Homo sapiens: one gene and its partner. The protein of the gene in region 2 purifies or fractionates together with the protein of the main gene of each other region. This does not show direct contact. Each region holds a gene or a part of one and is shown on either strand. Other genes may lie near its edges.

Region 1 (3,821 bases), on a different chromosome or scaffold from region 2:
AGGTGGGAGGATTGCTTGAGCTCAGGAGTTCAAGACCAGCCTGGGCAATACGGCAAGACCCTGTCTCTATCTTGCTTTAAAAACATTTTTAAAAAAAAGAGTGAAGAAAACTAATATAGAAGAGTAGACAATCTATACTTTGCCAGACATCAAAAACCCAACTACTACTGGGTGGAACAGAGAGAGTAAGACAGCGGAAAAGAGGCAGGAAGTGTTAGGGAACATCCTTCTTCAATAATTCAATATCCAGCCAGGTGCAGTGGCTCACGCCTGTAATCCTAACACTTTGAGGGGCCAACACAGGCAGATCACTTGAGGCCAGGAGTTCGAGACCAACCTGGCCAACACAGCGAAACGCCATCACTACTAAAAAAATAAAATGATTCAATATCCATTTACTAACTATCCTTAATTGTCATCAGGACAACTAACAGTAATATGGGGAATCCAGTTTAATAGGGTTTAACTGTATTCAACATGAGGAAAAATACAACAACAAACCAGCTAAAAACAGAACAAGGGATAAAGTCCTTAACAGTGGCTGCTTTTTTGTGTCTTTGGTGCAGATGCCAGTAAATAATCTTGAGAAAAAATGTGAAATGTTTATTGCATATGTAATCAAAAGCAATGTTATCTTTTGGAAAAGTATGGTATCATCTGAATGTCCATTTATCAGATTTATTCCTTAGTTTAATCAGAGAAACTTCAAAGTAGAATCATTAGGCCCAAAGAAAGCAAGTCTGAAATTAATCCTTTCAAAGTGGTAGGTATAGGTTTTCAGCAGTGTAAGAAAATTACCAAATCTGACACTTCTGATTTCTACCCTCCATCCTCATCTTCTGAAAACAGATATGGACAGCTATTTTATACGTGAGTTTTAAATAAAGTACAATATTGAATTATATAGAATTATGAAATATGATAATTTTCATTAACTTTTTATAAACCGGTAAGCAAAAAATAAAACTCTAAGACCCCCAACTGACTCATGGACCCTCCCCTTGCCAAAGGCATTCCAAAGTTAACCTAAAAAACTAGTTCAGGCCATAATGAGAAGTGGGGGTTGGACATGACTCATATACCCTCTTCCCTTTGGAATTCAGGGACAACTGATCAGCATTAACATTAAAACAGAGATATTAAGATGTTTTGTAGCAATAAGACGCCAAATTCCCAGCCTGACTCTAGTACAGCATCACGTCAGATAGCAGGCCATGAAAGAAATTGAAGTATTTTGAGGCCGGGCACAGTGGCTCACGCCTGTAATCCCAGCACTTTGGGAGGCCGAGGCGGGTGAATCACGAGGTCAAGAGATCGAGACCATCCTGGCCAACATGGTGAAATCCCGTCTCTACTAAAAATACAAAAAAAATAGCTGGGCATGGTGGCCAGCGCCTGTAGTCCCAGCTACTCAGGAGGCTGAGGCAGGAGAACGGCGTGAACACAGGAGGCGGAGCTTGCAGTGAGCCGAGATCATGCCACTGCACTCCAGCCTGGGCAACAGAGCGAGACTCTGTCTCAAAAAATAAATAAATAAATAAAACAAATTGAAGTATTTTACCCTAAATTATATTTCTTTGACATATTCTGAAATGGCCCTGCAAAGCTTTCTCTTGTGGGGAAAATTTACGTTCTGTAGAGAATCCTTTCCCTTTCCAAGTCTTTTACCTGAACCAGGAGAAAATTAACTTAAGAGTCTGCCACCTTTTAAAGTCTCATAAGAAACATTTACAATGTATTCTCTCTGAAGCCTGCTACCTGGAGGCTTCATCTGTACAATAAAAACCTTGGTAGCTACAACCTATTATTTTAAACCAGACACTCCCTTCTATGGATTCCAGGACTTTAGATAAGCTCTTTTGACCAATTGCCAATCAGAAAATCTTTGAATCTGCCTACGACCTGGAAGCCTCCCCAACTTCTAGTTTTCCTGCCTTTCCAGATGGAACCAATGTACATCTTACATGTTTAACTGACGTCTTATGTCTCCCTAAAGTGTATAAAATCAAGCTATAGCCTGACCACCTTGGACAGATGTTCTTAGTATCTACTGGGGCTGTGTCATGGGCCACTGGTCACTCATATTTGGCTCAGAATAAATCTCTTCAAATATTTTACAGAGTTTGACTCTTTTCATTGACGAAGTTATTTTAAATACACACATGCACATATACACAGCTTAAAACTATGAACAGAAAAATATTTTACTTAGACAATTTCTGTCTTCAATGCCTGACCCTTTAGCCCTTTAAAACTATGAATAGAAAAAATTTTATTTAGACAATTTCTGTCTTCGATGCCTGATCCTTTAGCCCTAGAATATCCTGAGAAACTTGATCTCTCATTCATATAACATACTAGGCCTTTTCTGTTTAGTCCTATGTACTTGAGAAATCAAACGTCACCTAGAGAACCTCCACCATTGTGTTACCCAGGAGATTTCCGGCTTGTCTACCCACAGGAGCCATGCAGAACATGATATGTTCTAGTAAATCCAAAGAACCATTATTACAACCTTCTCTTTTCCTCCAAATATTCCAAGGAGCTCATTACCAGCATTACAACATAAAAACCTGCAGTATAAAGTAAAAAGTACAATATTTTGAGTCCATTCACTTAAATTCTATTTTTGTTTCTGCTATGAGTCTACTCTTTGAACTTCAGCTTCTCCTTATATAAAATGGCTATCACAGGTTTTCAGTCTTCCAAGAAAGTTCAACAATTAAAATATTTACCAACTTAGTCAACAGGGCAAGATCACCATCTCTACAAAAAATTAAAAAATCAGCCAAGCATGGTGGTATATGTCTGTAGACCCAGCTACTAGGGAGGCTGAGGTGGGTGGATCGATTGAGCCTGCGAGGCTGAAGCTTCAATGAGCTAAGATGGTGTCATTGCACTCCAGCCTGAACAACAGACCAAGGCCCTGTCTCAAAATGTGTATGTACATATATACGTATGTACACATATTTGTTAATCACATAACTAATGTTTTAACACATCTCACTGGAGAGGAAATAAATATTTCTCAAATATCTAAAATGCAGAGCTGTACAAATTAACTGGCCTCCAATTAATATTTGCTTTAATAAATAGACTTCACATATCCTCTCATTAAGTCAACAGAATTTGCTGTGCTATTCCTCTTTTGAAATAGTTTGGTTTCAGATAAATTAAGGCCTTTATGAAAATTCAGTGTCAAATTTGAGTATGGGTTGGGTGCAGTGGGTCATACCTGTAATCCCAGCACTTTGGGAGGCTGAGGCAGGCGGATCACTTCAGGTCAGGAGTTCGAGATCAGCCTGACCAACATGGTGAAACCCTGTCTCTCCTAAAAATACAAAAATATTAGCCAGGCATAGTGGTGCACGCCTGTAGTACCAGCTACTCGGGAGACTGAGGCAGGAGAATCGCTTGAACCCGGGAGGTGGAGGTTACAGTGAACCGAGATTGCGCCACTGCACTCCAGCGTGGGTGACAGAGCAAGACTCCATTACAAAAAAAAAAAAAAATTTTTTTTTTTTTTAGTATGCCATAAGAATAAAATTCAGAATAAACATAGTCACCATATAAAACACATTTACACGAGATTTCATTAAAATGAGATTTAATTTGGCATTTAACATTTCAAGGTACCAAATATTTCAATTAACACTACTACAGTTTGATGCCATTTCACTGAATCAAATAAATTGGTTTTCAGTTAAATTAGAAGATAAGTAGGCCAGGCGCAGTGGCTCACACCTGTAATCCCAACACTTTGGGAGGCCAAGGTGGGCGGATCACGAGGACAGGAGATCGAGACCGTACTGGCTAACACG
Region 2 (3,921 bases):
TTGTTTTGTTTTGTTTTGTTTTATTTTTTGAGACGGAGTCTCGCCCTGTCACCCAGGCTGGAGTGAGTGCAGTGGCGCCATCTTGGCTCACGGCAACCTACGCCACCCAGATTCAAGTGATTCTCCTGCCTCTGCCTCCCTCCCGAGTAGCTAGGACTACAGGCGCATAGTCACGCCCAGCTAAGTTTTGTATTTTTAGTAGAGACGGAATTTCACCATGTTGGCCAGGATGGTCTCCATCTCCTGACTTCGTGATCCGCCCGCCTCAGCCTCCCAAAGTGCTGGGATTACAGGCGTGAGCCACCGCGCGCAGCCGAGTTAGCTCTTACTATGGTAGCTCCCTCTTATCCACAGGGGGGAGATACACTCTAAGATCCTCAGTAGATGTCTGACGGAACCCCATATATACTATGTTTTTTCTTATACATACACACCTATGATTAAGTTTAATTTATAAATTAGGCACCATAAGAGATTTTTATTTTTCTGTTTGTTTGTTTGTTTGAGACAGGGTCTCACTCTGTTGCCCAGGCTGGAGTGCAGTGGTGTGATCTTGGCTCACTGCAACCTCCACCTCCTGGGAGCCTCCCAAGTAGCTGGGATTACAGGTGCCCACCACCACGCCTGGCTAATTTTTGTATTTTTACTAGAGACAGGGTTTCACCATGTTGGCCAGGCTGGTCTCGAACTCCTGACCTCAATTGATCCACCCATCTCAGTATCCCAAAGTGCTGGGATTACAGGCGTGAGCCACCGCACCCGGCCACCATAATTGAGTAATAGCAATAACTAATAATAAAATAGAACAACTATAATAGCATACTGTAATAAAAGTTATGTGAACATGGCCCCTCTCTCTCAAAATATCTTATTGTACCAAAATCACCTATTTTCAGATCATGGTTGACTGAGGGTAACAAAGTGAAGAAAGTGAAACTGCCGATTAAGGGGGCACTACTGCATTGGAGTTATTACGTAAACATTATACATCCTTTATTTCATTTTAATTAAACACTTGTTTCCACTTAATTTAATTTATGTATCTATCTATCTATCTATCTATATATATATATATATATATATATATATATATATTTTTTTTTTTTTAGAGAAGGGATCTCGCTCTGTCGCCCAGGCTGGATTGCGGTGGTGCCATCTCCACTCACTGCAACCTCCGCCGCCTCCCAGCTTCAAGCACTTCTCCCACCTCCGCCTCTCAAGTAGCTGTGACTACAAGCGCACGCCACCATGCCTGGCTAATTTTTATATTTTTAGTAGAGACGGGGTTTCACCATGTTGCCATGTTGGTGGTCTCGAACTCCTGAGCTCAGGCAATCCACCCGCCTCAGCTTCCCAAAGTGCTGGGATTACAGGCATGAGCCATGGCACCCGACCTGTTTCCACTTTTTACTTAAAACGTAAGTTTCTCTGGCATGCTTTCTTTTAATTCTAACTAAAAAATTAAGAGCAACTCTTCTTTAAAAACAAACAAATAAAAAACCAACAGAAAAGATTCTCTGACATTTCAATTTCCTCTGTCCCCTAGCAGCTAGAGAGAGAGAGCTACTGCTGTGGGATAATGCAAAATTGAAGAACCTTAAGAAAAAGCTGGGTCCTATTTCTGTGCAATATGGAGATTGATGGAAATGTTTACAGCTGTCATCTTGCTCTCCTTTCTTACATAATTTTGTCATTAGTTAAGTAATCTGCACAACAGATCCTTTGAAGTCCTTTTCCCTGCACTGATAATTTTCAGATGACATTGCTCTCATCTTTAAAAGGTGTAAATACTTTATACAGTTTTTTCCAAACAAGAAGAGGCTTCCTGGCAATCCCATTTCTTCCCGCTGCATGCAAAAGGTATCATAACTATCGTTTCCTTTTTAAACTGAGAGTTGAAGAGTCTTTTGCTCCTTTACATAAATCAATTACAGTGATTTTATCCAAAATAGTAACAAATATTAATAGCTCAGGTTCGCATGGAGGCCATGCACCCAGTCTTCGCGGATGCACACCGGCCCCGGCCGACGCACCCTCCCTGCCCTGCCGCTCCCGCACTCGCCGGCCCGGGATCCTCGCCCGGTCCACCCAACGCTCACGCATGTCTCAGTCCGGGTTCCGCGCCGACACAGGTCTGCAGAGCTCCCGGTGCTGTGTTCGTTTGCAGAAATTCAAGTTGCCCGGCGGGGCTGCTCCAACCTCGGAGCTGGGCGCTGACTTCTCCCTCGATGAACTCCAAAGCTCGCTGCCGGGTCAACGACCACAATGAACTGGCGAGGAGGCAGAGATTGAGGTCGTTCCAGTGGCCGCTGAGAAATGTAGTTTCAGGCTACATTGGCCGGATAGCTGCAGCCTCTGGGAAATGCAGTCCTGAGCCGTCACACCGCCGAGCATGCCCGGCGCAGTCCACAAGGCCGCCCACCGGCGCCCGGAGACTTCTGGGCGCTCCCGTCCGGCTGAGAATGCGCAGGCGCAGGCGCTCGAGTTGCTGGGAGCCATAGACCTCGAAGCTGGGGCGTCTGACACCTGAGGCCCGAAGTAGGTGGCCAGCTTCTTAGAGGGCCAACCCAGGGCATTAACACACCAGGTCAGAAAAAGCAAAAACAAAAACAAACAAAAAATGATAATCTATACCAAAATATGTTATTACTTTAACACAAAAATATGAAAACTAGGTGTTTGAAATTATCTTTCCGTACTGTTTGCTTTTCGCTACAGAAATGCTATTATTTAACAGAATATTAATAGGATTAATAGTGGCAATTAGACTAATCACGTGTGAGAAAAATATATTTCTGTCCTCTGATACAGGAATTTTAAGTTTCTATTAAATATTTAAATTTTGTGGGTTCTATCTAAGATGCTAAATGTAAGACCTTTTAAAAGGAGAATGTAAATAAGGCTAATCAAACAGATATTAACTATATGTAATAGGCATTTATCTTTCTGTCCCATCATACGTTTAGGAGATATTTACTCTTTCTGGTTCCTTTTCCAGTAACACCTCTCTGTATTAGCTGCCTGTAGCCTTTATGGCATTCTTCTTTTGGTTTATGTAATGCTAAAACTGAATACAGGCAAACGTGAAATTCACCTTGACTGTCAGCTCCGCTTTTTGTTTGTTTTGTTTTTGTTTTGTTTTGAGACAGGGTCTCCCTCTGTCGCTCAGACTGGAATGCAGTGGCGCTATCTCGGCTTACTGTAACCTCTGCCTCCCAGGTTCAAGTGATTCTCCCACCTCGGCCTCCAGAGTAGCTGAGACTACAGGGGCGCGCCACTACACCTGGCTAATTTTTGTATATTTTTTGTAGAAATGGGGTTTTGCCATCTTGCCCAGGCTAGTCTCGAACTCCTGGGCTCAAGCGATCCACCCGCCTCAGCCTCCCAAAGTGCTGGGATGACAGGGTGAGCCACCGCGGCCAGCCGAGCTCTGTTCTTATTAAGCCCACATTACAGTGATTCCTGGAGTCAGTCCAGGGTGATGACATTGATAAGGAGGTGGGGAAGGGGAGTGCTGGGGAGGGAAGGGCGGGGTCCCTTTAAATGATATGGAAGGGGGAAAGGGAGGTGCTGGGTACAGGAGGGTGTGGTCCCTGGCTAGGGCTCCACCCCTGGCCCTGTGCCAACTGACCTAGGTGAGGGCAGGCATTTTTGTTTTCCTGCCCAAATGTTGCGTTTCCCAAGACCACCCTGGCCTGCCACGCCCCCATCCTGTTCCCGCCCCCATCCTGTCCCTATAAATACTCTGAGACCCTAGCAAGCAGACACACAAGCCGCTGGACATCCAGAGGAACATGTTGGCGGAAGAAGACATGACAGACGCTGGCACGCGGGCAGGCCACCCACCAGAAGGACGCGGAGTTTGGCTGGGGCAGTCCAAGGAGAGCCGGTGCTGCGGAGCAGCCCGATTCCAGGGGAAAA

Evidence for each region.
Region 1: the proteins of ZNF30 (region 2) and SPAST purify together in Homo sapiens (affinity purification with mass spectrometry; one large-scale study listed by BioGRID and IntAct). This does not show direct contact.

What each region holds. Positions count from the first base shown.
Region 1 is NC_000002.12:32,069,760-32,073,580, reverse strand, and holds part of SPAST (spastin), read right to left. Parts: intron 1-3,821. UniProt on the Homo sapiens protein: ATP-dependent microtubule severing protein that specifically recognizes and cuts microtubules that are polyglutamylated.
Region 2 is NC_000019.10:34,925,395-34,929,315, reverse strand, and holds the start of ZNF30 (zinc finger protein 30), read right to left. Parts: upstream 2,414-3,921; 5' UTR 2,100-2,413; exon of another isoform or gene 1,597-2,099; intron 236-1,596; exon of another isoform or gene 217-235; intron 1-216. UniProt on the Homo sapiens protein: May be involved in transcriptional regulation.